7 linked regions of the Homo sapiens genome follow. The protein of the gene in region 1 purifies or fractionates together with the protein of each later gene. This does not show direct contact. Each region holds a gene or a part of one and is shown in the gene's direction. Other genes may lie near its edges. The genes, in order: VPS50, PPP2R3C, VAMP4, SDF4, ANKRD22, STX6 and STX12.

Region 1 (3,500 bases):
AGTTGTTCTTCTGTTGTTGGAGATTTTTTTTTTAACTAAAGTGTTTACAAAATGTAGAGGGCCAGAAAAATACTTCATCAGTAGCATTTAAAAAATTTGAAATGTCAGTGTATTTTGATGACTCAATAACAAAGACTATTACAGAAACAAGTGTAAAGTGTGTGATCATCAAAGCAGTAAGAAGCATACGCATGTCAGATTGCTTTGCCATATTAAAACAGATTCTAGTGCTTACTGTTTCAAATGTGTACTATAGTATTCTTATTCTCTCCTATTACAGCTCAGTAAACAATTTGCCTTCCATGTCCCAACTGTAATTTCCACTGTTTTTCACTGGTTTATAATGCTCAGTAACTATCCACTGCACCTGAATATCCGCCTGTTCTTTTGTTGCACTGATCAGATACATTCCTTTTAGGGTACTAAATTTGGATCTTTCTTCTTTGAGCAGGAATATTCAACGAAGCAGCTGACCAATCTGGTGAATGTTTGCCTGGGATCCCATATCAATAAGAAAGCAAGACAAAAACTTCTAGCAGCTATAGATGATATAGACAGACCTAAAAGATAATGAACACAGCTCTCTTTCCTCAATGGCATTGATCCTCACTCAACATATATGACCTGAAAGCCAGTTTTTTTATGCACTTCTGACAACTATCTGCTAAGAAAACTTTGTGCATGTTTTTTTGACTGGAAAGTGGAAAATATTGAAATGTGTGTGGTGTTCTCATGACTTTTATATGCTGTGGTCTCTTCAACTTTTGGTCTCATTTGTTGTAATCTGAAATGATGTTGCCGCCTTGTCATAACAATGGTTATGTGACTACAGTTATACATTTTACAGAAGAATGTACCATAAGTATATAATTAGAAGAACAGTGGCTTAATATATGTATGGGAAGTTTATGGAAAATGAAGTTGGCACTTTTCTACCCTCTGAGCTTGGTTCTTAATAAGCATAATGTGAGGGTGAATATGTAGTATCTCCTAATTATGAGCACTGCATGAGAATTAAAAAACACATGTAAGTAAAATAGTTGAAAAATCAGTATGTTCTCTGTTTTTAAAATGTCAAAGTTTATGTCAGGGTTAATTTAGTTATAACAAAGTGATCATAATGGTGAAATTTAATAAATATACTCTAGTATGATCAGCCTATGTGAGACTACATTTTGATTTTTTGTGTGGCATGCAGATGTCATGAACTATAGTGCAGCTTTTAGTGTGTTCTAATTTTAATTGTTTTATATCCTGAAACCAATGGTGAAAAGTAATTTCATTGAGGGTACCTTTTCAATGCCTGAGTAGCATACAGAATCATGATTATGAGACTTTCTTTTATCTTTCTTTATAAAAATATGTGGTTTTTTTGTTGAAAGTTTTGGTCTCTTTAAATTCAGATTTTGTCTTAGGACAGTAAAACCCAGGTTGACTGACTCAGGAAACAGTTGTCTGCTAGTCACTCATAAATGTACGGTCATATGTTCACTCTTCTTAAATATCCACCTTTTATAACACAAATGTAAAATAGTATCAGTCTAGCCAATGATGAACTCTGGAATCCACTTAGTCTTCAGTAAGTATGTGCTGTTCCTCTAAACTTTGCCCTGAAGCCAGGGATCTTCTCCTAATGTATGTGACATAAAAATCCATTTTCCATGTACTCTTGCCAACTGTCTGATAAGGAATTTTGTGTGTGTTCTTTCTGACTGGAGAGTGGAGGACATCTAAGCTTGTGTGGCATTGGTCCAATGATTGCCATGCATGACCTGTAACATCAACAGCTCACAGAATCCTAAGGAATCATGTGAGAAACAGGCCTTGGGTCTTATGAGTCTTCTGGGACCTAAGGTGATAAAATGGATGGCACAGAATGGCATGTGATCAAGCATGGAGGTGATAAGGAAACAATTGCTACTCTGTGTCCATCAGTCCCTGCGATGTCTGTAAATGCACAGTGTAATGTGAAGCACTTTCAGAATATGTTTGTGTGTGTCTGTATGCTGAGTGTTTTCTTTTCATCCTCTCATGTCGGAGTTCATTTACTGTCAATTTAAAACTTTCCTCTTGTAAAAAGGTATGAGTTTGGTGCCATTATGATTTGGTTGTGGCTAGATTATATACTTGTGAAGTAGATTCTGCCTGTAGCCATTATTTATATGCAGCCACTTGAAGAAAACAAACATGAGATAAGCTTGGTCCTTGAGTTTAAATGGCATATTTAGCTGGGCACATAAAGAGCTAATCAATCTTTTAAAATTTGCAGTTGATGAAGAGCTGCTTATTTTTCTCTTCTACATGGATTTTATAGTTGGTTTCCTTTAATTTCTACTTTAGTTGGCCCTAGATAATATGAACAGGAATCACCTGCCTGGTAGAGCCCAGTGTTTTCCAAGGTAATAGGAATTGATACAAAAGAATTACTTATCTTGTTAGAGACTCGACCATGCAATCTGACAGACCTTTTAACCTACCCTTACTTTGCTTTCTCCATCTTCAAAATGAAATGGTGGATCTTTTTAATGCTTTTTGAAAAAGGTTTTTTTTTTTTTTTTTTTTCATTAAAAGGTAGCTTAATAAGTGCTAGCTAGCATCAAAACAGTAACAGGAGGTTTGAGTCATGAAGTTACCTAATCACAAGAGAGTTACCAGACATTTCTCAAATACTTTATACAGTAATATTGAGTTATAACCATGTAACATTTTATGAAACTAATTTTCAGATAAATACAATTGAAAAGCTGAGAATGTAAATGGAATTATACGTGTTCCAAAAACTATCATTACCAAAAATTTATTATTTTTGAGTCTAAACTTTCCTTAACTTTGACATTTTCCATGAAAGTTTCCTGTAGAATTTACCATGGGAGCATGGTAAATTAGCATTCCCTGAGAAAGAATGATCATTTCTACAAATACATTGTCTTGCATTTAAAAATGCTAGGGGGGCACATAGCAATTCAAATGAACTAGTTTGCTTTGGTTTATAAAACCAACAGAGATTTTGTAAGTTCACTTTAACTAATAAACTCATTTACACAACTTATTAAATGAATTTCTCTTGAAACCAGGGCCATATGGTATTTTATCATATCTTTAAATAAAATTTCGAAATTTCTATTTAGCTGAGTGCTAAAGTGAAACTTTGTTAGATTAAATAGCTTTTTCTTAACTCACCAAAAAGTAGTAAAAGGCTTGTAATTCAATTCACCTTGTAAGCATAGTTGTCTTTTGTAATAAAAAACTAGATCTGAAGATGAATTGATGAATACAAGTTGTGCTCAAAGCACATAGAAGTACAGGGTGGGGGGGATTTCCATATATATACATATATATATATTATATATATATTTCTTTTTGGAATAATTTTGATTCGGATTAGTGGTTAACAAAATGATATTTAGCTTCTGACAATGATTAATGATGAGAATTATTAATAGTCTGGTATAATCTTTGTAAATGTTAAGACTGGTGCAGCTTTCTACAGATTTTTTCTT
Region 2 (3,500 bases), on another chromosome or scaffold:
ATTGTCCACATTTTATGTGTAAGGCAACTGAGACTTTGCTAGGTTACATATTTAAAAGTGGCATTCAAACTCCAATCTGGGCTAGGTGTGGTGGCTCACACCTGTAATCCCAGCACTTTGGGAGGCTGAGGTGAGAAATCACTGGTGCCTAGGAGTTCAAGACCAGCCCTGGCAAGACAGACCTCTTCTGTACAAAAAAGCAGCAGCAGCCAGGCGCAGTGGCTCACACCTGTAATCCCAGCACGTTGGGAGGCTAAGATGGGTGAATCATCTGAGGTCAGGTGTTCAAGACCAGCCTGGCCAACATAGTGAAACCCCATCTCTACTAAAAATAGAAAAAATTAGCTGGATGTGGTGGTGGGTGCCTGTATTCCCAGCTACTTAGGAGGCTGAGGCAGGAGAATCGCTTGAACCCAGGAGGCAGAGATTGCAGTGAGCTGAAATCACACCATTGCACTCCAGCCTGGGCAACAAGAGCGAAACTCTGTCTCAAAAAAAAAAAAAAAAAGAACAAGAACAAGACAAAACAAACTCTGCTCTTAAACCACACCTGTTTACCTGCGTATTGCTTTCTAGTCCAGAACCTGCCAAAAATAAATGGAGACAGTGTCCCTGTTCGTGTACCAGCAGTACTATATCTATAATCACAACTTTTTTGAAAATCTGACATCAGTATAATTTTAGAATTTACCACTTAGATTTATATAGTTGAGGTATACAAGTAGAGATGTTATTAAATGTTGCCTGTAGGTTTCTCTTTTTTTTTTGCAGGGTGGGGATGGAGTTTTGCTCTTGTTCCCTAGGCTGTAGTACAATGGCTTGATCTCAGCTCACTGCAACCTCTGCCTCCCAGGTTCAAGCGATTCTCCTGCCTCAGCCTCCAGAGTAGCTGGGATTACAGGCGCCCTCCACCACACCCAGCTAATTTTTTGTGTTTTTAGTAGAGATGGGGTTTCACCATGTTGGCCAGGCTGGTCTGGAACTCCTGACCTCAGGTGATCCACCTGCCTCAGCTTCCCAAAGTGCTGGAATTACGCGGTGAGCCACCGCGCCCAGCCGAGATTTCCCTTTTTGTAGCAATATGTAATAAGGACTTTGGAGCATAAGAGCTAGAAGCTTTAAAATATCAATTGTGTGATTGCTCTTGTTAAAAAAATTTTTTTTTAATTAATTGAGTTGCTCTTTTCTTAAAATGAAATTAATTGTGTTTCTTTATGTTCTTAAAGGAAAGATAAAAATTCAAGATATTTTAGCATGCAGCTTCCTAGATGATTTATTGGAGGTAAATGTTTTTAAACTACTTAATTGTATCACTTGACAGTTGCTATCTTCTAATTATGTCTTTGTGTTCCATTAGCTAAGGGATGAGGAACTGTCCAAGGAGAGTCAAGAAACAAATTGGTTTTCTGCTCCTTCTGCCCTAAGAGTTTATGGTATGTTCCTATCATAATGCTAAAATTTGAATTATCCATTCTTCAGGAAATTGGTGTTCAGAGGACAGTTTTATACATACACTGATATACCTTAAGATCAAAATATTTAATTACCTTAAGCTTTAGTATTCTACATTACCAAAATTTACTTGTTTAAATACCGATGTTTTAACTTTTTGGACTCCCCCCAACCTTTTCTTTTTGAAGACAGGGTCTCACTCTGTCACACTGGCTGGAGTGCAGTGACATGATCACGGCTCAGTGCAGCCTTGAAGTCCTAGGCTCAATCCTCTCACCTCAGTGCCCCTACCCCACCCACCCCACCACCCCCAGTACTGGGTCTACAGGCGCCATGCCTGGCTAATTTATTTTATGTTTTTTTAGAGATGGGATCTCACTGTGTTGCCCAGGCTGGTTTCAAACTCCTGGGCTCAAGCAGTCCACCTGCCCTGACCTCCCAAAGTGTTGGGATTATAGGCATGAGGCACTGCACCCAGCAGAACCCTTTTTAAGTTATACACTTCCTTTTCAATAGAACAGAATGTAATTTGATCCTTGTTGACTCAGGAGCATCATTATGAACATTAGCTATTGTCATGCTTTGTTGATAAAATGCTATTCCCAGGGTCTACTGATGGAGCTAATCTACATTATCTTGTTGGGTGGTCTTTTGACTCCTTTGGCTTTTTTTTTTTTTTTTTTTTTTGGAGATAGAGTCTTGCACTGTTACCTGGGCTGGAGTCCAGTGGCATGATCTCGGCTCACTGCAACCTCCACCTCCCAGGTTCAAGTGATTCTCCTTGCCTCAGCCTCCCAAGTACCTGGGATTACAGGCGCTCGCCACCACACCCGGCTAATGTTTTTTTTTTTTGTTTTTTTTTTTAGTAGAGACGGTGTTTCACTATGTTGGCCAGGCTGGTCTGGAACTCCTGACCTCTGATCTGCCCTCCTCAGCCTCCCAAAGTGCTGGGATTACCGGCGTGAGCCACCACGCCCGACCTCCTTTTGGCATTCTTATCTCTACTTTCAAGTGCTAGCATTTCAGTGCTTTTTGTTGGCCTCTACCTCCATTTAATTTAGAAACCTAGGAATGTTTAAAAAGACTGCAAACTGAAAACAAATAATGATGTAAGTGAAACAGCCCAGAGACTATGGCCTTCATGATGGGTTTTTTTGGCTGTTTCTAGCCCAAGGGTTTTTCTGATCAAGATTGCAAAGGTAGCTGATAGTATTACACATAGGCCACTACCCTAATCATAACATGAATAGTTTGAAAATCAAAATATTAACCAAGAAAAAACTTTTTGTTAGTCTATTCTTCTGATTAAAATTTTATTGTGGTCATAAGTGTCTTTATTATTTTTCTTCCCAAGGCCAGTACTTGAATCTTGATAAAGATCACAATGGCATGCTCAGTAAAGAAGAACTCTCACGCTATGGAACAGCTACCATGACCAATGTCTTCTTAGACCGTGTTTTCCAGGAGTGTCTCACTTATGATGGAGAAATGGTAGTAGTTTAAATCTGCTGCTAAGTTTTAAAAGTTTAGGCTCCCAGAGTTTCCACAAACCCTTTTCTTGATGTAATACAGCCCTTTTTTTTTTGAGACAGAGTCTTGCTCTGTCGCCTAGGCTAGAGTGCAGTGGTGTGATCTCCGCTCAATGCAACCTCCACTTCCTAGGTTCAAGTGATTCTCCTGCCTCAGCCTCCGGAGTAGCTGGGATTATGGGTGCATGCCACTGCATCCAGCTAATTTTTGTACTTTTAGGAGAGATGGGGTTTCACCAGGTTGGCCAGGCTGGTCTTGAACTCCTGACCTCAGGTGATCTGCCTCCCAAAGTGCTGGGATTACGAGGCGTGAGCCACCACACTCGGCCCAGCATTATTGATATCACTGTGTAACAGTGTCTTTAAAATGTGTAAACTGATCAAATTACTTGAGATTCAGAGTCTTTGGTCTTAACGTAAATTAAAACATCTGCATTATGGCCTCAGGGCAAATAGAAAAGCTTATTGTTCATTTCATTGTCAGTGCACCTACTGTACAGTAGTGCATTCTAGTTTTTT
Region 3 (3,500 bases), on another chromosome or scaffold:
AAGGATATGTCAGGAAATGGGGATTAAGACCAAATGAGTATATTTTGTAAATCACGATATCACACCAGTACTTACCAAACTTACCCCTTTTCATGGAGTACCAATGGGACATTATAGTTTGCAGAATATTTTTGCATGTATTATCCAATTTGACCGTCCCAACTCTGCAGAAGCCTGAAAATCAGTATTTTACACCTGAGGAAACTGAATCATTGCTTAAGCAACCAACTAAAAGTGAGAGAAATAGGCATGTTCTCCTGTCTTCTGACTCCAACTTTAAATTGTAAAGCATTTAATGTCTCAGTGAGACGTCCTCCCTCTACTCTCTGCTCTTTCATTTTATAAAAATCTTAAATCACTCATATCCTACACATGTTCTCTTAGGGCAATTACATCCATTTTCTCATAATTTTAACTATTTCTTAGGTGTTGAGGTCTAGCATGGAGGCCCCAGTCACTGGAGTGGAACAAGTGAGAGGGCAGGAATTGAAGTCAGAAAAATGAGGGAGTCCCTGTCATACAGGGTTTCATGTACACTGTTTTAAGTACATTAGCTTATGCCCCAAAGTCTCAAATCTGATGAAATTTATTTTCTCTTTAAGGTGGTGACTATCCTGTTGAGAAGCAAAAGATACTTTGCAAGTAAAAAATATGCCTCCCAAGTTTAAGCGCCACCTCAATGATGATGATGTCACAGGTTCTGTGAAAAGTGAAAGGGTAAGTTCGGAATCTTAAGCTTTAAAAACAAAAGATTCAAAATATGTTTTCATTCCCTTTGTGAATAATAGAAGAAAAACCATCCGGGCGTGGTTGCTCATGCCTGCAATCGCCGCACTTGGGACGCTGAAGCAGAATAGCTTGAGCCCAGAAGTTCAAGACTGTCTTGGACAACCCAGGGAGACCCTGTCTCTATAAATAATTTTTAAAAAATTAATGGGGCATGGTAGCACATGCCTATGGTTCCAGCTATTCAAGAGGCTAAGGCAGGAGGATCACCTGAGCCTGGGAGATGAAGGCTGTGGTGAACTGTGATCTGCACTCCAGCCTGAGCAACAGAGCAAGACCCTGTCTCAAAAATTAATTAACTAATAATAATAACAACAGAAAAATCAAAAGCTTATGACTATATTCTAATCCTAATTGTTTTCTTCATAGCAAATGTATTTAAAAACATGTTACTTAGATTGGTGACAACTGAATTCTACTTCCATTATTGATCAAATCATTATTCTCATAGCTTCTTTCTAGTTTTTGAAAGGGAGTTTTATACAAATACACAATATCTTATTCAGAACTTTGAATGTATTTGGAATTTTTCAGATTTTAGAAAGTTAAGAACATATTATGTAACAGCATTTTTGGGGCCTGGACCAGTGCCTCCAAAAATATTAATATTTCTCAGTGAAGTCTATATTTAGTTATATCTAACTAACTATGTAAATAAAGTGTGTAAATAAACTAGCTAACATCAGTTCAGGTCAAATTTTCCTCCAAAACTTTTTGATTTTCAGAAGCTTTTAGATTTTGGAATTGCAAATAAAGGTCCCCAGACCTGTAATTATCTTATGTTCCAGAGTATCTTTTATATAATGCTTCAATTTCTAGTTTATTCCAGAACATTCTATGCAAATATATATAAATCTAGAAATTATGCCGCATTTAAAAGACAACATTTTATATGAATGTTGTAGGCAGATTACTTTTAGAATAAGTACTCAATACATATTTATTGGGGGAAATAATTCACGTTCTTATTTTTTTAATGCACCATTCTGAAGCCCTCCTTCCTTTCCTTCTTGTCTTGATTCATTCAACAAATATGTATTGACCACCTCCTATGTGCTAGGCACTGGGCTAAAAATTGGAAGACATAGTCTGTGCCCTTGCAAAGCTTTTAGTCTGCTTTGTTTTACATGCTCTTTTTGGACAACCTCAGAACTTCATATTATCCACTCTGTCCACCATCTTATGACTTTTAGTCATAAGTTTCTTTTAGTACAACACAGGAAACATTTTCTTCCCCTTATTCTAACCCTTTGTACAGCTTTTGCGGTTTTGTGTGTTTCTGATGGTTTGTTTTTATTTTTTGAGACCAGGGTCTCGCTCTGTCATTGAGGCTGAAGTGCAGTGGTGCAATCACAGCTCACTGCAGCCTCCACCTTTTGGGCCCAAGCTATCCTCCCACCCCAGCCTCCTGAGTAGCAAAGACTACAGGTGCATGATATCATGCCCAGCTAGTTTTTGTTTTTCTCGTAAAGATGGGGTTTTGCCGTGTTGCCCAGGCTGGTCTCAAATTCCTGAGCTCAAGTAATCCACCTGCCTTGGCCTCCCAAAGTGCTGGGATTACAGACATTTGACACTGCACTCGGCCTGTTTTGTTTTGTTTTGTTTTGTTTTGTTTTGTTTTGTTTTGTTTTTTAATGGGGAAATAGAATCCACCAATAGATTAATTGCTAGCAAGCTTTTACTAATAAACTTTAAGGAGTCACCAATGATTTCCATGTTGCCAAATCCAGTTACTCCTTCTTTGCCATAATTTCAACTGCTTACTAGCATTTGGTGCAGTTTCAACCATTTTGGTCACCTATCTTTTCCTCCATGCCATGGTGAAACTCTTAGTGTCTGCTTGAGCTAGTTCCCCATGCAAGGAATTGAGAAATGCCTTGAAATATACCAAGTCTGGGTGAACCCGGAAGGCTCTGGCCGAGAGAAGGCAGAGGATGATCAGGGATTGAGAAATCACTCAGGGATAATCCAGGGTCTCTTTCTTTAATGTAATATCTTTCAAGATAAACCTCCAAGAAAAAGTGATTCAGAAAATTTGATATACCTGTGCTGGAATTCCATACACTGAAGATTTACTATCAAAAGCATGTCTTGGCCAGGCGTGGTGGCTCGCGCCTGTAATCCCAGCACTTTGGGAGGCCGAGGCGGGCAGATCACTTGAGGTCAGGAATTCAAGACCAGTCTGGCCAACATAGTGAAACCCCATCTCTAGCAGAAGTACAAAAATTAGCCAGGTGCGGTGGTGCACACCTGTAATCCCAGCTACCTGGGAGGCTGAGGCAGGAGAATTGCTTGAATCTGGGAGGCAGAGGTTGCAGTGAGCCGAGATTGTGCCATTGCACTCCAGCTTGGGTGACAGAGTGAAATTCCATCTCAGAAAGAAAAAAAAAGCATGTCTTTACAAAGCAGAAGGTTTGGCGAAATACTAAACCCATTCAGAGAATAAATGTCAATTTGTTAAAGTAAATGATACCAATTGTGAACCTATAAAGGAACCCAGTGTAAAACAACACAGACTTGATATGCATCCAGTAAAAGCTGACTGAAAGCTCCTGATGAATATTCAGTGATCAGCGTGCACAAAGCATGCTGAAATATTTTTTAAATCATCGGTTAGAAGAATCTGAGCCTCTTTCCTATTGCCCCAAGGAAATCTTTAGTCACTTACCCAGAGATGCTTGCAAAGCATTAATATCCTGGAAGATGATCAATAA
Region 4 (2,786 bases), on another chromosome or scaffold:
GGGCAGGGGGGGGTCCAGGCTGTCTTGGGGAGTCCGGGCTGTGTGGAGGGGTCCAAGCTATGCCTTTGGGGATCAGGCCTGTGGGAGGCTCTGGGTTATGTCTTGGCGGGGGTCCAGGCTGTGTCTTAGGGGCTGGGCCATGTTCTGGGGACGTGTGAATCCTGGAGGGTGGGGCCCCGGTCTCGCGGGTGGCTGTGTCCCTCGAGTTCAGGCAGCACCTCTCGGAACTTTCTGGATTTGCGTGCTGGCGTCTGTCGGCCTCGATACCCACAGGCTGCGCCCCTCTCAGCACAGGAAGTCCTGGAGAACCTGAAGGACCGCTGGTACCAGGCGGACAGCCCCCCTGCAGACCTGCTGCTGACGGAGGAGGAGTTCCTGTCGTTCCTCCACCCCGAGCACAGCCGGGGAATGCTCAGGTTCATGGTGAAGGAGATCGTCCGGGACCTGGGTGAGGCTGGGTCCAGCCTGGCCGGCACGCCAGGACCCAGGACCGACTGGCAGGGGCCGGGCATCGTCGGGAGGTCGGGGCAGGTCCTGCGGGAGCCCCAGCCTGGGTGTGGGCTGACCCATTCCCGTCTCGCAGACCAGGACGGTGACAAGCAGCTCTCTGTGCCCGAGTTCATCTCCCTGCCCGTGGGCACCGTGGAGAACCAGCAGGGCCAGGACATTGACGACAACTGGGTGAAAGACAGAAAAAAGGAGTTTGAGGAGCTCATTGACTCCAACCACGACGGCATCGTGACCGCCGAGGAGCTGGAGGTGAGCCCTGGCGCAGCCGTGTCCCGGAGCCGGCCCTGCGAGGTGCTGTGGCGGGAGGGGCTGGTGGATCTGGGCCTGAGGCAGGAAGCTGTGCTGGTGTCTGGCCTGAGACTCCATCTGGGCTGGTCACTGGGGCGTTTGCTCAGCGGTGTCCACCAGGCTGCATGGCCGTTGTTGGCGTTTAGGTTCAGACGGATCAGAGACAGGCGAGCCTGGCCGGGCTCCATCCTCAGCCCCTTGCGGAGGCGTCAGGGTTCTCACAGCCCCTTTTTAACGGGACCACAAGGGGAAGCTCATGCTGGGCCCAGCATGGAGGCAGGTCCAAGGCCCAGCAGGTGCAGGTGGGCGGGGCGGCCTGTGCCACATGGCTGGAATTTACCACCTTCCTCTGAAGCGTTTTCACTGGTATCATGTGTAGGCTTGTTTTTCTCCCACTGCTGAGTGAGTCATCTTGTTTTTATGTAGAATCCTGTGATTCCTGGCGACAGCCAGTGGGCCCGGCCCAGGTTAGGGATCCTTCAGAACTGGGGTCCAGGCCTGTGTAGCCCCTGTGCCCCGTTACCCCTGCTGGCCCCGGGCAGGCCTTCCGGGGCCCCCGGCTTCTCCCTGCCCTGTGTTTTCATTTGTGCCGCCTCCCTTCGGGAACCTTCCAGAACGTGCCCACACTCCCGCTGCAGCCAATAGGCACCTTAAATAGCCACTTCGTGCGGCTGGCCGCGGAGCTCGGAGGGGGAAAGGCGACGCTGACCTGTGCCCCGCTCGCCCGCAGAGCTACATGGACCCCATGAACGAGTACAACGCGCTGAACGAGGCCAAGCAGATGATCGCCGTCGCCGACGAGAACCAGAACCACCACCTGGAGCCCGAGGAGGTGCTCAAGTACAGCGAGTTCTTCACGGGCAGCAAGCTGGTGGACTACGCGCGCAGCGTGCACGAGGAGTTTTGAGCGCCCGGCCGCGCCCCGCGCCGCCCCCCACGCACCACCGGGGCGGCCTCGCGGGTGACTCCGGGCTCCGTGGCTGTCCCGGACCCCACCTCTTCCCTGCCGCCCGCCACCGGCCGACCGACCGCGGCTGCCCCAGTTGATGAGCGGCGTGTCCCCTCTGCAGCGCGCACCCCGGCGGGGCTTTGGCTGTGACGCGGTCGGGGCGCGGGGCTGGGCTGTGGCCCCGCGGCGCCGCCTCCTCCCTGGTCCCTCGAAATCGTGGCATCTCACTTCTGAGAACGAAATCTCGCTTCAGTCACTCTGCCGAAGGCGCTGACGGCATCGCGGCCGGAACCTCTGGGCCCGGCCCCTCCCAGGGCCGCCGCTCCGTGGGAAAAAACAGCTCCTCCATTTCCTTGAAAACTGAACGATTATTAAAAATAGATTAAACTTCGCTGGAAATGAGTAGCCAGGAAGTTCAGGGGAGGGTGCCGGGTCCTTCCCGGGCCTGGCGTGTCGGAGCCACCCAGGTCCCGCAGCTGCCGCTGAGAAAATGCAAATATTTGTTGTGACAAGAATCACATACATTTACTTTAAATATAGTTGCCTTTTTTGGTCAGCTTCATTCTTTGGGCGTGAAACAAAACACAACAGCAGCGTGCTAGGTTTGTGGTTACAGTTTCCACTGGAGCGCTGGAGGCTGGTGCTGGGTCACGTGGAGGGTTGGAGGTCATGGCCGGTTCGAGGTGATTCTCCTGGCAGGTGGCAACGGGCAGGGGCTCTGGGAGGACGGAGGGCAGCGCTGCGTTTGTGAGTAGGGGTCAGGGGGCAGCAGACGTGCCCACTGAGTTTGGGGTTTGGACATTTAAGGCAGGAGACAGAGCCGCCTGGGGGTTTTGGGTGGAGGATGGCAAGGTCTTTGGGTGCAGTGGGGCAGGCCTAGCCCCAGATGGGGCAGAGAATGGGGTGTGTTAGGACGGCTGGTGGGGGTCCTGCTCTGTGGCGTGTGGGGGCCCAGGCTGTGTCCTGGCTCTCCCAGTGGGAGCTCAGGGAAGCCGGGAGTGTGTCCTCTTCAGTCTGCCCTGTGGTGCCCATGTGACCG
Region 5 (3,500 bases), on another chromosome or scaffold:
TATTGGAAAAGCTGGTACAGTTGAGGAGGAGAAGTCAGGGAATACAGGAATAGAGATGTGACTAATTGAATGGCCATTGGACTGAAAGTCAAGCAATCCTATATTTTAGACCTGATTGTGCCAGGAACTTCAAGGGATTTGAGAGGAAGTCATTTAACCTCTCTGAGTCACAGTTTTAATATTACAAAACAAGAGAGCTGAATGAGATCTGGTTTCACATTTAACATCGTGTCATTCTGTGATATGAGAAAGGCTAGGCAGAGACAATGGGGAAAAAATTGCATTCTCACAATCTTCCCAGCTCTCTCCATCTACCTTGTTTATGTATGAACTCCTAGCAAGATTTTGGTATTCAACAACATATGCAAGAAGAGCATCAGGCGTTTTCATCCCAACTGGTTTTCTAATTCTTTCCTTGTATATTGAAAGTAATTTTACAAATTAAAATGTTGTGCTAAGTCACAAAAGTTCAGAGAGAAAATGATAACTTTCACATATGAAAAGACACCAGGATTGAAAATGTGTATACCTTTATTTATTTATTCATTCACCCATCCATTTGTTTAATCAACCATATTTATTGAGTACATACTATGTTTCAGGCATCTTCTAGTTCCTGGTGTATATATGTATATATATATGTATATATACATATATACATATATATATACACATATATACATATATATATATACACGCATATATGTTGGGCATCCCTAATCTGAAAATTTGAGTGGAAGTGCTCCAAAACTCCAAATTTTTGAGCACAAACATGAAACAAGTAGAAAATTTCCTACTTGACCTCATGTGATGGGTCACAGTCAAAATGCAGGTACACAATGCACAGTTTACTCAGAATTAACAAGAGAAAAAAGAATTTCCCAGCCCCTTTCGGCTGTGATATATCTTTTTCTTGAACACCCAGTTTTTCCCATGAAAGCAAGTCCACAAAGGGTAAAAAATGGCACCTGTGCAGGATGAATGAGCCTATAGCAGATTTGCCACTCTGCCTCCATGGGGCCAAGATTTGTGTGTATTTCTCTGTGTGTGTCTTTTTTTGTTTTTTGGGGTTTTTTTTTATTTTGTTTTTGTTTTGCTTTTTCTCTACTCTGTGATGTAAATATACTGTTGAAAATATCAAAAAGGTCTGCAGATACTTATGGGTAACAGTGATAAGAAAAAAAAAGGAAGCATTTATGTATACTTATAACACAGAAAGTCAAGCTTTTGGATAAATTGGACAGTGGTATAGGTATAAAATGTCTGATAGAAGAGTATGGTGTTGAGGCCAGGCGCAGTGGCTCATGCCTGTAATTCCAGCACTTTGGGAAGCTGAGGCAGGTGGATCACCTGAGGTTGGGAGTTTGAGACCAGCCTGGCCAACAAGGTGAAACCCTGTCTCTACTAAAAACAGAAAAATTAGCTGGGTGTGGAGGCATGTGCCTGTAATCCCAGCTACTTGGGAGGCTGAGGCAGGAAAATTGCTTGAACCTGGGAGGCAGAGGTTGTAGTGAGCTGAGATCACATCACTGCACTCCAGCCTGGGCAACAGAGTGAGTCTCCATCTCAAAAAAGTAACAATAAAAAAAGAGTATGGTGTTGAAATGACCACCATATATGACTCAAAGAAATAGAAGGATAAACTGTTTAAGTCCTATGCTGAAGTTAATGAAAAATGTAAAAAAACATTCCACAAAGCTACAAATGAAGATCCCAATTGTGTATTGAGAAAGTGGATCCATCAGTATCACAAAGAACACATGCCACTTAATGGTATGCTGATCATGAAACAGGAAAAGATCTATCACGATGAACTGAAAATTTAAAAGAACTGCGAATATGCGTAGTTCTTTGGCATAAATTTAAGAAAAAACATGGCATTAAATTTTCAAATATTTGTAGTGACGAAACATCTGCTGATCAGAAAGCAGCAGAGAAATTTATTGATGAGTTTGCCAAGATCATCACTGATAAAAATTCTCACACTAGATCAAGTCTATAGTGCTGATGAAACATCACTGTTTTGGCATTATTGCTTCAGAAAGACACTGACTTCAGCCGATGAGACAGGCCTTGTGGGCAATCAGGATACCAAGGACAGGATAATTGCGCTGGGATGTGCTAATGCAGCAGGCACACACAAATGTAAACCTGCTGTAATAGGCAAAAGCTTGAATTCTCACTATTTTCAAAGAGTAAATTTCTTACTAGTCCATTATCATGCTAACAAAAGGCATGGGTCACCAGGGACATCTTTTGTGATTGTTTTCACAACATTTTGTAGCAATGGCTCATGCTCACTGCAGGGAAGCTGGACTGGATGAAGGCTGCAAGATTTTGTTATTCCTTGACAACTTTTATGCTTATTCTTCAGCTAAAATTCTCATCAAAAGTAATACTTATTCCATGTGCTTTTCCCCAAATGTGACTTTATTAATTTAGCCATGTGAGAATGGTGTCCTTAGATCAATCAGTGTAAATATAAAACATTTTCGTAAACAGTATGTTATCAGCAGTGAACATAGGTGTGGGTGTTTCGCATAAAGGATGTTGTATATGCTGTTGCCAATGCTTGTAATGCAGTAACTAAAGACAGTTGTGCATACCTGGCATAACCTCTGTCCTGCAACTATGTTCAGTAAGTATTATAAATAAAGTGACTTTGAATGATTCTGTATGTCAAATGAGAAAAAAAAAAGATGTCTGACCATACATACGCAAAAAAAAGTACCTTCAGAGTCCACCAGTAAGTTGGAAGAAGTTGATATTGAAGAAATTTTTAACACTGATAATGAGGCTCCAGTTGTTCATTTATTAACCAATGGTGAAATAGCTGAAATGGTTCTGAATCAAGATGATTGTGATAATAGCAATAATGACGATGGTGGTTAACACTGTAAAGACTTTGTCAGGGGCCAGATCAGGCAGGTCTTGTAGGCCAAGGTGAAAAATTTAGATTTTATGCAAAACACAATGGAAAGCGGGTAAAGGATCTTAAGAGAGGAATAATATGACCATTAGGGTTTAAAAAGGCCACTCTGGTAGCATGGGAGAATAAATTTGAGAGATGCCAGAGGGAAAGCTGGATCTTGGAAGGAAGCTGTTACAGTAGTTTATGGAGTGATAATGATGGTTGCATTAGACTAATGGGTGAATTTTAGATAAATTTTTAACTAAAAGATTTCCTGGTTTGTAGGTTGGCAGTGAAGGAAAGTAAGAAATTAAAGTTGATACTCAGTATTCTGCCTTAGGCCAGCCAGTGGATGGTGGTGCTGATGAGATGGGAACACTCAGAGAGGGGCAGAAGGAAAGACACATTTCAGGGTTCTATTTGGACATGGTACTTTAGCGATATCCATGAGACATCTAGGTGGGGATGGAAGATGAATACAGGAAATGTACCTTTAAGGAGAGGCTCGGGCAAGAGATAATAATTTAGGAGTTGTCTGCATATACATGGTATTTAACGCCAAGAGAAGGGATGAGTTTAGACATGGAAA
Region 6 (3,500 bases), on another chromosome or scaffold:
ACCAGTCCGGGCAACATGATGAAACCCTGTCTCTACAAAAAAAAAATATAAAAATTAGCTGGGCATGGTGGTGCACACCTGTTGTCTCAACTACATGGAAGACCAAGATGGGAGGCTGAGGTGGGAGGATCAGGTTGAGGCTGAGAGCTATGATCACGTCACTGTACCTTAAAAAAAAAAAAAAATTTCCGTGATTGAAGAAAAAGAAATCTGTTTTTAATCTTTCTTTTTTTGACACAAGGTCTCACTGTGTTGACCAGGCTGAAATGTAGTGGCATGATCTTGGCTGACTACAACCTCTGCCTCCCAAATAGCTGGGACTACAGGCGTGCACCACCACACCAGGCTAATTTTTTGTAGAGACAGGGTTCACCATGTTGCTCAGGCTGGTCTTGAACTCCTGAACTCAAGTAGTTTGCCTGCCTCAGCCTCTCAAAGTACTGGGATTACTGGCGTGAGCCACCATGCCCAGCCTGTCAGGCTTATTTCCGAGAGCAAAAATGAGACAGTAATCTGCTGGCTTTGGGCAGGGTACATTCAAATGGTGTCATCCTGAATGATTAGACCCTTGTCCATACCTCTAGTTTCTTCAAGCTAGTTATCTTTCTCACTTTTTATTTCTTAGTGTACTCTATTTCTTGACGAACAAAACAATTGCTATTGTAGAAACCATTTGGTTTTTTGATTGATTGGTAATCACTTCGCATTGTTGAAGAGTGACTCTTAGTGGGTTTGGATAGCGGCCTCTTCCGCCATCTGAATTGCTTCTGGAACTCTTGCAACCCAAGATACTGACATTTCCATATGTAACTACTTGACAGCCGTTCCAGAGTTATCCAGAGCAAACAAGCATCTATCAGAGTGTAAAAAATTGATCCAAGTGAACAAATCTTTAGTTCTAAGTTATTTAGAATAATACCCATTATTAAAGAATCTGAGAAAAAATATTAAGTACAATCTTGTGTCATTAAAATGTTTCATATTTTGAAACTATATGGCTAAGCCATTTGATTAGCATAACTAGATGTAAGAGAACCAGCTGTCTTTAACATATGTACTAGAAAGCAGCTTCCTTGAATAAAAAGACTTGGGATCATACCAGTGCTAACATACGGCTTTTTAAGAGTCATCTTAGGCAGGAACCTTAGTTTGTGTTTGCCAAAGTCTTTATATCATGTGATTTCCTTTTGAAATTATTTCAAATGGTAGATTATCACTGAACTTTATATATTCTTGTTACTTGTTTTATTCATTAGTTGCCTTTCTATATACATATACGTAAATTGTTTATAGATAAACCCACATTTTAATGAGGGAGAAACCTTTCTGGACCTCAGATGCCCCATCCACAGTGAGTGTTTGGATTGGACATTCTTAATTTCTAGCCAGTTCAAAATACTGTTCTGATGAGGAAGCCTTGTTGTTAGGTGACATATTTTTTGTAAGATAAGTAAATCCCCAATTATTTTGTATAAGCTTTTTTTTTTTTTTTTTTGTAGTAGTAGGTTTTTTGAAGGATACTCCTATAGACGTTAATATTTAAGTGGGGCCTTGCAGTGAAGCATATGTCCTTAACCTTAATCATTATATTTATTTCTGCAAGGTAGACTTAGGAAGTTTGCAAATTGAAATTTAGAGGTTCGTATATTAAAAATTAAGTTCATTGGTATAATGGAAAGAAGAATCCAAAGTTCATTTTCTAATATCTGAAAAGCTTTTTAAAGTACATTCTTAGAAAGAGGTTGATATGATTTAGCTGTTTCCCCACCCAAAATCTCATCTTGAATTGTAATCCCCATAATCCCCATGTGTCAAAGGAGAGACCAGGTGGAGGTAATTGAATCATGGGGGCAGTTTCCCACATGCTGTTCTCATGATAGTGAGTGAGTCTCATGATAGCTGATGGTTTTATAAGGGGCTCTTCCCACTTTGCTCTGTCACTCTTCCCTGCTGCCTTGTGAAGAAGTTGCCTTGCTTCTCCTTCTGCCATGATTGTAAGTTTCCTGAGGCTTCCCCAGCCATGCTGAACTGTGAGTCAATTAAACCTCTTTCTCTTATAAATTACCCAGTCTCGGGCAGTTCTTTATAGCAATGTGAGAACAGAGTAATGAGAGGTATTCCAAATCAAGTCAGTACTTCAAAATCTTACTGTCCTTTTAGAGTTGAGATCTAAACCATACTCAACTATGTGATCCACCTGAATATTTTAGGGTTTTAAATCATTCTTGTTTAAATTTATGACCCCTTTGGGGGAAGCTGTTAGTATTTACCAGTGGTAGGCTAACAGTACCTAACTGAGCTTTTGCTGATCTGATTGTAATAAATTCTAGTTGAAAGTCCTATAGAAGAGGAGGAAATAGCAATGGTGCTAACTCGATTAAAAATAAAATATACCTTGTATAATTCCACATTACCACATTTAGCTAAACAGTGTTTGTATGTAGAGATTTCTGGGTTCTGGGTGGAAGAGCTCGATAGAGAGGGAGCAGAGGGTTAGCAGATTTGGAAAATGAGATGAAATGAAGTTCAAATTAGGAATTTGTACAAATTTATGTTAGTTCTTCTGTTACTATTACTAGTGGGCTTTCATTTAATATTGCTCCAAAATTTTGATTGACTTTATCTTTCAAACAGTGTATTCTACTTATGCTTTCTCTTTTGTAGGCAGGGGAGTCAGTGATACTCTATGCATTTTGTGGTTTTTTTTTTCTTTATTTGCTTCAACCTGAAGAAGTAAATCGCCTGTTTCTTCTTGATTAATGTCCATTGGTTATGCCTTTAGTAAGCTTTCCTTGTTTAGAGTTTTGTGTATGTTTTTCCAAGCATCTTTTAAGTCTGTACAAATCCAGTTTTGCTGGCAGTTTTTAGTGAAGAACCAAAATACTCACATTTTTGTGTAAATAGCTTTCATATTTTTGAGGTAATCATTTTTACTCTTGTGGAGTCACCTATACATCAAAGATTCCACATGTGAAATTTTTGTGTTTTAGAAATATATCCTAGAAGTGACTTTGGTTTTACTTTAGGATCAAGAGGTTTTGCAGTATATGGCAGAATAATGGTGAATATAAGGGGTAAGGGAACCTGAGTTCTAGGCTAAGCTGTGACCTTAATAAATCTTAACCATGGTAAGTCATTCAACCTCCCTGGATCTCAGTTTTATCTATGAAATAATCCTCACTAACATTCTCTGACTTTAAAAGTTAGAACTATTACCCTCTCCATGAAAAAACCGAACCTGCTCCAATGTAAGAATTGTTTACAGTCAATTGTAAGTCAAGATGGAAATGGCTTTGGTTAATCAAAAAGGGTGAAGTATCCAGTGTGAGCACAGATGACCTTGAAATGTAAGAATTATGAGTGGGAAGCACTGGGGTTTATGATGTCTCATTCATTCAGCTTGGAAGACAGTGTGAAATGGGAACAGAAGCATAAATAACCAGGACATTTGTTGTTCCTTTGGCAGATGAACCATATTTTATTGGGACTTGTTGCTTGAC
Region 7 (3,500 bases), on another chromosome or scaffold:
TGAGGCAGGAGAATCTCTTGAACCCGGGGGGCGGAGTGAAGTAAGCGCCACTTCACTCCGGCCTGGATGAAAGAGCGAAACTCCGTCTCAAAAAAAAAAAAAAAAGCCAGGCATGGTGGCTCAAGCCTGTAATCACAGCACTTTGGCAGGTTGAGGCAGGAGGATAGCTTAAAGCCAGGAGTTTGAGACCAGCCTGGGCAACAAAGCAAGACCCCCATTTCTAAAAAGAATTTTTTAAAAAGTGTTATAACATTTCACTAGCTTTCTGTTAAGAGGGTTTTTTATGGATTGTTTTTTAATAGAGATGAGGGTTTTGCTATGTTAGCCAGGTTGGTCTTGAACTCCTGGCCTCAAGCAGTCCTCCTGCCTCGGCCTCCCAAAGTGCTAGGATTACAGGCATGAGCCACCGCGCCTGGCCTGTTAAGAGGTATTTAACCCAAAGCATAACCCCAAGGAAATTTTGGAAAACTAGGAGATGTGATTCTGTTGAACTAACTGGCAAAGCACTGATAGGTCACTTAGCTTGCTCTTCTCCACCCACTTAGTACTGAAGGTACTAATGCAGCTTGCACTTTGAGAGTGCCCTGGAAGATGATGGTGCAACATAATTCAATGAGTTCAAATCTCTGGCTACTTTCCTTGTCTGGCAAGCCCCAGTGAGATTACAGAGTATACCCCTAAATGGAAACAGCCAGGAGTCCCATCCGTCATAATTCTGCCACATGTCAGCTTTGCCCATGGAAGCTGAGTCTTTGTTTTCCTGATATCATCAGCTCTTTGCTTCTGGATATGAAGAATGTGGCCCTCCAAGACTTTATTGATAGCAGAGGACTGGAGCCCTGGTAATGTCTTTGCATAGGTTCTGCTGGCAGTAGAGATGTTGGAGATATGTCTTGTTATGCCTTTGAGAGGAGAAATCACCTAGTGTGCCTGTTTCCCTGCAGCCATGAGGAGTGGAACCAGATGCAGAGCCAGGAGGATGAGGTGGCCATCACTGAGCAGGATTTGGAACTTATTAAAGAAAGAGAAACGGCAATTCGGCAGCTGGAGGTGAGAGCCACGTCATGTTTTTTGTTTGACTCAGTGTGTCTGCAGGTATCTGAACTCCTTAGTTCACTTTAATTCTCTTAGTGATTATGAAAAGGCATAAAATGTGTCATTGTGTGATTTGTATTTTTTCTGTCTCAGTGTAATCATGGTGGGTTTGAACTACCGGTTTTTTTTGTTTTTTTTTTTATCTTGGATGGAATTTCGCTCTTGTTGCCCAGGCTGGAGTGCAGTGGTGTGATCTTGGCTCACTGCAACCTCTGCCTCCTGGGTTCGAGCGATTCTCCTGCCTCAGACTCTCGAGTAGCTGGGATTACAGGCATGTGCCACCACGCCCAGCTAATTTTGTATTTTTAGTAGAGACGGGGTTTCTCCATGTTGGTCAGGCTGGTCTTGAACTCACGACCTCAGGTGATCCACCCTCATCGGCCTCCCAAAGTGCTGGGATTACAGGCGTGAGTCACCGCTCCTGGCATGAACTACTGTTATAATGGCATTGGCCTTGGTGCCCAGGAGTACTCAAATCCTTTCCTCAATCACCACATCTTATACGGATCACCACATCTTATTTCTCCTGGAGAAATGTACATGGAGAACAGAACAAGGCAGACAGATATTTTATTGCTCATTAGAACTTTGACCTCAAATCTCAATGCCAACCTCCGGGTTAGGCAGGACTCCATGGAGAGCCCCTTTGCTTAGTCTGAAGAGCCCAGAATAAAGGCAGGCCAAAAGTCTTGCTCCATTTTTGTATATCCTAAAGTCTAATCCCAAGTTGTACATCTTATCCCTTCAGTGAGTCAGAGAAATAGGAACAGTTTTTGAGGTGGAGGTTGAGGGAGAAGTCTGTAGGCCTTTCTTACCTAACTGAGCTTTCAACTTTAATTTTGCACAGTGACTAATAAAATATCCTTTTTTTTTTTTTTCCGAGACTAAGTCTTGCTCTGTCGCCCAGGCAGGAGTGCAATGACACTATCTCAGCTTACTGCAGCCTCCCTCTCCTGGGTTCAAGTGATTCTCCTGCCTCAGCCTCCTGAATAGCCGAGACTACCAGTACGCACCACCACACTCGGCTAATTTTTGTATTTTTAGTAGAGACAGGGTTTTGCCATTTTGGCCAGGCTGGTCTTGAACTTCTGACCTCAAGTGATCTGCCTGCTTCAGCCTCCCAAAGTGCTGGGATTACTGGCATGAACCACTGTGCCCAGCTAAAATATCCTTAAACCTGAGTTTTCTCCAGTTTAGTTTTCTCCGAAGGTAGAAGGCTGCCATTGCTGGGATCAGGGGAGGAGAAAAGGAGAGAGGGAAATTTTGAGCTCTTCCTTGGCCTCCATCTGTAGCAGTGGTTCTGAACTGTGAGTGCACATGAGGATCACCTGGAGAAGATTTTTTTTTAATGCCCCAGCTCTCATCCACCACTAATTACCTGATGGGATAATGTGAAATTCCTGTTTATTATATGTTAAAAATGGGCAAATATCCATTATTTTATATGGTTCAAACTAATAAATCATAATTTCTGGGCGTGAGGCCCTGGGCATGGGTATTTTTTTAAAAAGTTCCCCCAGGTGATTATAATATGCAGCCAGGGTTGAGACCCACTGCCCTAAAGGCCATCAATGTCTGTTTTTATCTATTTATTATTTATTTTTTGAGTCAGAGTCTTACTCTGTCACCCAGGCAGGAGTGCAGTGGCGCGTTCTTGGCTCACTGCAACCTCCACTTCCTGGGTTCAAGCGATTCTCCTGCCTCAGCCTCCTGAGTAGCAAAGATTATAGGTGCCCGCCACCACTCCTGGCTAATTTTTGTATTTTTAGTAGAGACGAGGTTTTGCCATTTTGGCCAGGCTGGTCTTGTCTGTTTTTAGATGGGATAGTTTATCCTTAAGTTATGATTATTTTATTGCCTTCAAAAATGTCATATCTTTACTCTTTTTCACCTACTGCTACTACTAATTGAATTAATTGTCTAACATTAGAAATATGGCTAAGTGCAATGGCTCATGCCTGTAATCCCGGCAAGTTGGAGGCTGAGGCAGGATGATTGCTTGAGCCCAGGAATTCAAGACAGCCTGGGCAGTGTAGCAAGACCTTACCTCTACAAAAAATAAAAAATTAACCGGGTGCTGTAACATGTACCTGTGGTCCCAGCTACTCAGGAGCCTGAGGCAGAAGATCACTTGAGCCCAGGAGATCAAGGCTGCAGTGAGCCATGATCGTGCCACTGCAATCCAGCCTGGGCAACAGAGCAAGACTCTGTCTCAAATAATAATAATAATCCTTCCTTCAAAGAAAAATTACTAGCCGGGCGCGGTGGCTCATGCCTGTAATCCCAGCACTTTGGGAGGCTGAGGCGAGTGGCTCACCTGAGGTCTGGAGTTCAAGACCAGCCTGACCAACATGGTAAAACCCCGTGTCTACTAAAAACACAAAAAATTAGCCGGGTGTGGTGGT

What was found.
Region 2: the proteins of VPS50 (region 1) and PPP2R3C purify together in Homo sapiens (affinity purification with mass spectrometry, with the first as the bait; one large-scale study listed by BioGRID). This does not show direct contact.
Region 3: the proteins of VPS50 (region 1) and VAMP4 purify together in Homo sapiens (pull-down; one study listed by IntAct). This does not show direct contact.
Region 4: the proteins of VPS50 (region 1) and SDF4 purify together in Homo sapiens (affinity purification with mass spectrometry; one large-scale study listed by BioGRID and IntAct). This does not show direct contact.
Region 5: the proteins of VPS50 (region 1) and ANKRD22 purify together in Homo sapiens (co-immunoprecipitation; one large-scale study listed by IntAct). This does not show direct contact.
Region 6: the proteins of VPS50 (region 1) and STX6 purify together in Homo sapiens (pull-down; one study listed by IntAct). This does not show direct contact.
Region 7: the proteins of VPS50 (region 1) and STX12 purify together in Homo sapiens (pull-down; one study listed by IntAct). This does not show direct contact.

Annotation. Positions count from the first base shown.
Region 1 is NC_000007.14:93,357,866-93,361,365, forward strand, and holds the end of VPS50 (syndetin), read left to right. Parts: intron 1-451; coding exon 452-571; 3' UTR 572-3,258; downstream 3,259-3,500.
Region 2 is NC_000014.9:35,094,491-35,097,990, reverse strand, and holds part of PPP2R3C (serine/threonine-protein phosphatase 2A regulatory subunit B'' subunit gamma), read left to right. Parts: intron 1-1,226; coding exon 1,227-1,282; intron 1,283-1,357; coding exon 1,358-1,433; intron 1,434-2,806; coding exon 2,807-2,943; intron 2,944-3,500. UniProt on the Homo sapiens protein: May regulate MCM3AP phosphorylation through phosphatase recruitment. May act as a negative regulator of ABCB1 expression and function through the dephosphorylation of ABCB1 by TFPI2/PPP2R3C complex.
Region 3 is NC_000001.11:171,735,566-171,739,065, reverse strand, and holds part of VAMP4 (vesicle-associated membrane protein 4), read left to right. Parts: intron 1-602; 5' UTR 603-651; coding exon 652-717; intron 718-3,500. UniProt on the Homo sapiens protein: Involved in the pathway that functions to remove an inhibitor (probably synaptotagmin-4) of calcium-triggered exocytosis during the maturation of secretory granules.
Region 4 is NC_000001.11:1,216,431-1,219,216, reverse strand, and holds the end of SDF4 (45 kDa calcium-binding protein isoform 2 precursor), read left to right. Parts: exon of another isoform or gene 1-283; intron 284-289; coding exon 290-448; intron 449-583; coding exon 584-759; intron 760-1,412; coding exon of another isoform or gene 1,413-1,528; coding exon 1,529-1,705; 3' UTR 1,706-2,286; downstream 2,287-2,786. UniProt on the Homo sapiens protein: May regulate calcium-dependent activities in the endoplasmic reticulum lumen or post-ER compartment. Isoform 5 may be involved in the exocytosis of zymogens by pancreatic acini.
Region 5 is NC_000010.11:88,845,345-88,848,844, reverse strand, and holds part of ANKRD22 (ankyrin repeat domain-containing protein 22), read left to right. Parts: intron 1-3,500.
Region 6 is NC_000001.11:180,998,871-181,002,370, reverse strand, and holds part of STX6 (syntaxin-6), read left to right. Parts: intron 1-3,500. UniProt on the Homo sapiens protein: SNARE promoting movement of transport vesicles to target membranes. Targets endosomes to the trans-Golgi network, and may therefore function in retrograde trafficking.
Region 7 is NC_000001.11:27,811,219-27,814,718, forward strand, and holds part of STX12 (syntaxin-12), read left to right. Parts: intron 1-944; coding exon 945-1,050; intron 1,051-3,500. UniProt on the Homo sapiens protein: SNARE promoting fusion of transport vesicles with target membranes. Together with SNARE STX6, promotes movement of vesicles from endosomes to the cell membrane, and may therefore function in the endocytic recycling pathway.